Linked DNA regions of Homo sapiens: region 2 is reported to be linked to region 1. The links are microRNA targets in miRTarBase. Many come from high-throughput screens and were not tested one by one. Region 1 holds a microRNA gene; the other region holds the end of a gene's coding sequence.
What was found. The annotated mature microRNA hsa-miR-7705 reads AAUAGCUCAGAAUGUCAGUUCUG and lies in region 1 at 1,648-1,670, opposite strand. An mRNA with a match to its seed (bases 2 to 7 or 8) in the 3' UTR can be bound and repressed. Matches are read on the target gene's strand: a 7mer-m8 pairs with bases 2 to 8, a 7mer-A1 pairs with bases 2 to 7 and ends in A, and an 8mer does both.

Region 2: the mRNA of KIF21A is a reported target of hsa-miR-7705. Seed matches in the 3' UTR shown: 7mer-m8 at 1,688-1,694.

What each region holds. Positions count from the first base shown.
Region 1 is chr8:100,701,355-100,704,506 of GRCh38, forward strand. It overlaps MIR7705 (microRNA 7705), which reads right to left and starts at 1,670; the gene lies at 1,614-1,670. It overlaps PABPC1 (poly(A) binding protein cytoplasmic 1), which reads right to left. Exons shown (of 15, transcript NM_002568.4): 14 at 2,943-3,036; 15 at 1,562-2,005. The coding sequence ends at 2,944.
Region 2 is chr12:39,291,826-39,294,825 of GRCh38, forward strand. KIF21A (kinesin family member 21A) reads right to left here. Exons shown (of 38, transcript NM_001173464.2): 38 at 1,403-2,692. The coding sequence ends at 2,599. Among named protein-coding and RNA genes, the nearest start is that of LINC02406, 150 kb to the left of the region's middle.

The DNA.
Region 1 (3,152 bases):
AGCATGCACACTGATTTGGGGGTTACAAATAAATTTTAGTGAGTAGGCAAATTTGTAAATACGGAATCTGCAAATGAGAATCAACTGTTTCCTTAATTCCTGCAAGAATCCAAATGCCTACTCCCCAAATCTGTTGGCTCTGGCCACTTAAAGTTTGCTCTATCTGAAAAAGCAGACATTTCAGGAACAGATGAATATGACTTATCTTCGAATCTCACAACAAATACTGACTTCCAATCAATCAGCTACCTAACGTATAAAGCTATGAACCCAACCTGGCACTAGATTTTGGTGTGTGAACTAGTGTGTGAACTTTATAGATTTGACTTCAAGTGTCTCAAAATAGCCGGCTCTTTTAAAACCTCAAAATTTGAACCATTTTGTATTACAATTTTGAAAAAATATGGTGTTTCTCTGCCTTAACACAATGAAGAAAATCTTTCAAAAAAAAAAATTGTAATGAAGCATCAGCCCCTGAGAGGGTATGTCTGTTGTGAGGCAAAATACAAAATGATCAGGATCCCCACTGGATGCACTGTTCTATGCTAAAGGGTAGGAGGGTGGAGTTTGTATTATCTTGAGTTTCAAAACAAGAAGCCAAAGCGAAAAGCATTCTAGGTACAGAAGCATCACTAGGCTTCATCAGCATTGAGGGCTGCCACTGTCACAAGCTAGGGTTTTGTTTAGATTTATTTAATCCCGAAGGTTAATAGAATTGTTTGTTTAGCATGGAATGAGATAACCACACGTTTAACTTAGAAAGCTAACTCTAGCAGTAGTCCACAGAGAATGATCGGTTAGAAATTAAAACCTAAAAGTGTAAACTGCCTGGGTTATCAGTTTTATGCAGATACCCTATACTCCAGGCTAGATCTTCTAAATCCATCCTCCTAAAAGAACCCCACATCTTCACCTTTAACAAGTACTTTGGGTATTACACTAAAATTAAGCCACAATCATGAACTACCAAATTAAAGACGTTACAAGAATAAGGTTTAAAACTAATCATAACTTTTAACACTTTAATATTAAAATCATACCAAAGCCTATCTTATCTACATCCTCTTCAAGAGTAGCTATCATTGTTTTATATCATGTAAGGGTTTAAGCTAATAATCTCATAGCCTAGAAACCTCAATATAATCATCAACTGGCAGGCCAGGCATGGTGGCTTATGCAGGAATAAGCCTTATGCTTATGCTTGAGCCCAGGAATTCGAGACCAGCCTGGACAAAATAGGGAGACCCAACCTCTACCCGCAAAAAAAAAAACCCCATAAACTGGCTTATCTTCAAAAGTGGATGGGTGTCAGTCTTGTACATGAAATATTAAGATCATGTAACAAATACATGTAACAAATTGTTTCAATAATCCGTATGGAAACCTTAACTCATAAAATGCACTACAGGAATTGTCTTGTGCCTTTTACATAAAACCAATAGACCCCCTGAACTTAACAGTACATTTTTCATAAAAGATTCTTATGTCGGCTCAGCACCATTAAGATATTACCTATTTATGCATGGCAATTATAAAGACTTTGAAAAAAAGCAAATCCGTGCACTGTTTAAGGAATTTTTATTAAAGCAAGAATTTTATAATCCAAATTACGTTTCCTTGCTCAGTTATCAATTCTGTTACTTAAAACAGAACTGACATTCTGAGCTATTCCACAGTAAAGAATTACAAAATTAAAGAAAGGAATGCTTTAAATTTTTGTACTTTGCTGAAAATTCTTTTTCCCAGGGTCTATAAAACATTAATTTGTTTTTATATTTTACTATTTTTTTGTGTTTTTTTGTTTTTAAATCAATAAGTAATCTAGGACTAGCATTATGTTTGCTAGACCTGGCATTTGCTCGGTACATAAGGTTCAAAGTTTCCTTTCCTTTTTTTATTTATTTTATATTTTGCAATGTTTTTTTTCCATAATATTTAAGTTTTTCGATGTTTAGATATTTTTCTTCGGTGAAGCACAAGTTTCTTTTCATGGTCCCTGATCAATCTGTAAATGTTAAAAAAACAAATTAAGACCAGGACTATCACTTGTCAGTAGCAAATTAAAGCCCTTAGCCAAATGCAATGTGGTTGTTTTTATCCATAGTTTTACTGGAACACAGCCATACCTGTTCATTTGTATACATACTATCTATGGTTGTCTTGACATGGTAACACTGGAACAAGATCATTTCAGAGATAACACAGTCCTCAAAGCCCAAAATATTTCCTATCTGGCCCTTTACAAAAAACATTTGCCAATCCCTGGTCCTGATCCTGGCTGCACTACTCAATTTCTTGGGAGTGATGAAAGACAGTAGTAGAGACCCAAGGGCACCACCCAAAAAGGAAAGGTAAAACTATGAAAGCCAACCTGTGACAGGTCATTTTATATATATATTACTATACAAAATCTGGCAGGGCGCAGTGGCTCACGCCTGTAATTTCAAGACTTTGGGAGGCCGAGGTGGGCGGATCACTTGAGGTCAGAAGTTCCAGACCAGCCTGGCCAACATGGCAAAACCCCAAGTCTAGTAAAAATACAAAAATTAGCTGGGCACGGTGGCAGGCATGGGCCTGTTAATCCCAGCTGCTCGGGAGGCCGAGGCAGGAGAATTGCTTGAACCTGGGAGGTGGAGGTTGCAGTGAGCCGAGATCGCGTCAATGCACTCCAGGTTGGGCGACAGAACGAAACTCCATCTCAAAAAAAAAAAAAAAAAAAAACACCACCTGAAAGTCCTGGGATTTTAAAAATCCAACAGTTAACGGGTAAAATTCCTTTAATTCCTCTATAGTTAGTTCCACTTTTCCTTGAAAAATTAGCAATACATTTAAATGAACTGTAAAATGATCTTTTGCTATGTACATTTCAAAATATGCTCAACAAACTTTATAAAAGATGAAGAAAACAAGCTTAAAACAACAAACCAGAGGGAAAAGCTCACTTTAAACAGTTGGAACACCGGTGGCACTGTTAACTGCTTTCTGGGCAGCCTCTTTAGCTTGGTGGGCTTGTAGTACAGCTACAGCTTCATCAACCTAAAAAAGGGGAAAACAGATAAACTGGTTCAGGAAAGGAATGGAAATAAAGAGTTTCATAATGGTAACATACCAATTCCCAACAAAGATAAGTTTCTTCCCTCAAATGAAAGTAT
Region 2 (3,000 bases), not on the chromosome of region 1:
TTGATGATTTTAATTTAAATTTTTATGAAAGACTCCACATCAACTGAGAGTTAAATAATAAATGTGAAGCTGTAAGGTAGAGCTGAATTAATATGAAAAATCTTGTAATTATTTCTTAGCAAACTTTTAGAGATTTGGATTTAAAACCAGAAACATATCTTCTAAAAAAAGAAGAGGCTATTCTGTGTGTATGGGGGAACAGAACATATATTTAATACACAGTGTGGAGTAATCCATTTTAAATCTTACAGGCACTATCTCAACTGCTTTAAGAGTTATTTTAACATTTCTGAATGGGATCTTTAGGGGTTAACATGTTTCAAAATGTAATTTTTTTAAAGAAGGCTGCCTCTTTTACATATGCTTTTGAATTTCTTCAATCAGATCCACACTAGCTGAGCCTCCAGCATTTTAAAAGGTAAAATTAGACACTGAACTTTGTATTTTGCACAACCAAACACAGTGCTCAGGACCTCTCATTGGATTTGCAGTTAAGTTTGGATATGTCTAATAGGTGCTAAAGCACCCTGGACTTTATCTGAGCACTTACCAAGCTATTATGTAAATGCTGGTTTTATTATCTCACTCTACTCAGAGGGCAAGTGTCATCTCGGTTTTGTTATTTTTTCACCCCCAATACTTGGCAATGTGTATGCTCATTAAACATCTATTGAATAAGTCAATTATCAAGCTAATGAATTATTGAGCTGTAAACCTGCAAAAAAGAAACACTGCAAGAGACTTGAAATTAAAATAGTCTTGAAGTCTCTTTCAGATCTTGGCATGGTACCTTCTTTCAGGGAAGGAGGAAAAATTACAAAGGAGCTGAGTTTTGTCCTTATAGGAAAATCTCTTCCTTAAAACTTTTTTCAAAGATTATTTTGCTATGAAACTTAGAACATATGCACATACATAAAAGAGGATAGAGAAATATACATACAGTTCAACATGTATGTAGAAGGTGAATGCTTAAGTTTAGGACCCAGGTCAAAAATTACAACATTGCTAGGACCCCAGAAGCACCCTCCCAACCCTCCCAACTCACCTGCTGTGACACCTGCCAGTCACAAGCCACCCCTTCTCTTCTCTAGAAAACAAGGTCACCACTGTCTTAATGTTTATAGGAATTTTTTTTGTTTTGTTTTATCATCCATGTTCAAATTCCTAAATTACACAGTTGAACTTAATTGCTTTAAGTAGTGAGTTTCCATGGTTCATCAAGATTAGGTTACTGTTTAAAATCCTCAAGAATATTTCACGTCTAGTAAGCAAAGAAAGGAAGGCATATGGATTGCCAGATAACCAAAAATATGTCTTTTCTTCCATCACACAAAAATAAAACAAAGTTTTACAAACACTGGCCATTCTCTTGCAATTTGGAAAAAGAACAATACAGTAAAAATAATTTCATAGCAACATGTTTATTTAAGCCCTAGCTAAGTTTTCATTTACAAGCAAATATTTTCAGGGGAAAAAATCACATAAGACAATATTTTCAAATGTTATACCATCTACATAAAAATTAAACTTGCAGAATTTACAAATTAATATTCTGAGCAGACAGAAATATTATACATCCTTTTGCAAAATCCAGTCAACAACTTTTAAAAATTCATACAGGCACAACACAAGATAGTCTCTCTATACAATCTACCTATTTACATAGCTTTTCCCACCACAGATGATAATAGCTCTCATCATAGCTACCAAGGTTCGCAAACATAGTATATTTAAAATATATTTAGCAGCATATAAAAAATTAGATAAAAGGGAAGGAAATACTACTATTAAATAAAAACAAAATTAAATGGTCATAATAGAAACAACTCCATAGGAAAATAGATCAAAATATATTTCTGTTAGGACATCAACAATGTTTCCCATCACAGAATATATGCACAGCACTGGAAAAAAAAAAAAAAATTAACAGCATTTTAGTCCTGAGCACAGAATATAGTAGAGCTGCAAAACTTTGGTCAATACAAGTAAATGCCAACATTTAACACAAACTGTCTACCCTTCTCTGTTAGTAGATTAAGATCAATTCCACCTTATGAAAATTCATCAATAATATTCTCATATCTTATTTTTGTCCATTACATTAAAAGAGCTTTGAAATTTGGGAATCCACTACAGACTGATATAAATACCTGACAAGCAAACCACAATTTGACTAACATTTTCAATATTTAGTTTAAATACATAAATCACTTGAATAAACTACATGAATGAGTTAATGGTGGGCTGCATCGTATTCCAGGTGTGTTTTCTGACTGTCACAAAAGCAGACGTCTTGGTAATTCAAATAATTTGAAAGTGTGTTTTATAGATAGGCACAAAAATTCAGCCACAATAAAAGTGTGAATAAAGCAATATATCAATTGTAGGATATATATCTATTGGTTGATCTTAAAACTAAGCACACAGGATAGTACACAATTTTATTAGAATACCATTTATAGTCAGCAGTTGAATTCAGATATATTTTCCAGTTAATCCGATTCATACGTTTTGCCTAGTAAGTACAGGACAACATTTTCCATAAAGAATACAGAGTATTATCACAGCATTCAGTTTACAACCTATCTTCATTCATGTTTAATTACTGGCAATATCTTCCCCCAGATCTCCTGTGTCAGAGATCTGACCATCTTGCAAATTGCGAGCCTTCCAAATTCTCACAGTTCGATCACTACAAAAAAATAAACAAAACATGGATATATGAACAAGGGCAGAAAGATAAAGAAATAGCTCTTATAATTACTTATCATGGAAATATTTTCTACATAGGTCTTCAAGAAATCCAAGTATAAATATGCATTGTCTCATTTATATAGCAAACACATACCTTAATAATAACAGCTTATATTATCAAGGGCTTACTGTGAGCCAGGCATTGTTACCATGTGCCCTTTACATATGTTAACACACATTTAATTCCCTTTAACTACCATCAGCAATAGCTACTGCTATAATCCTCTTTTTATTGAAGAGCTAATT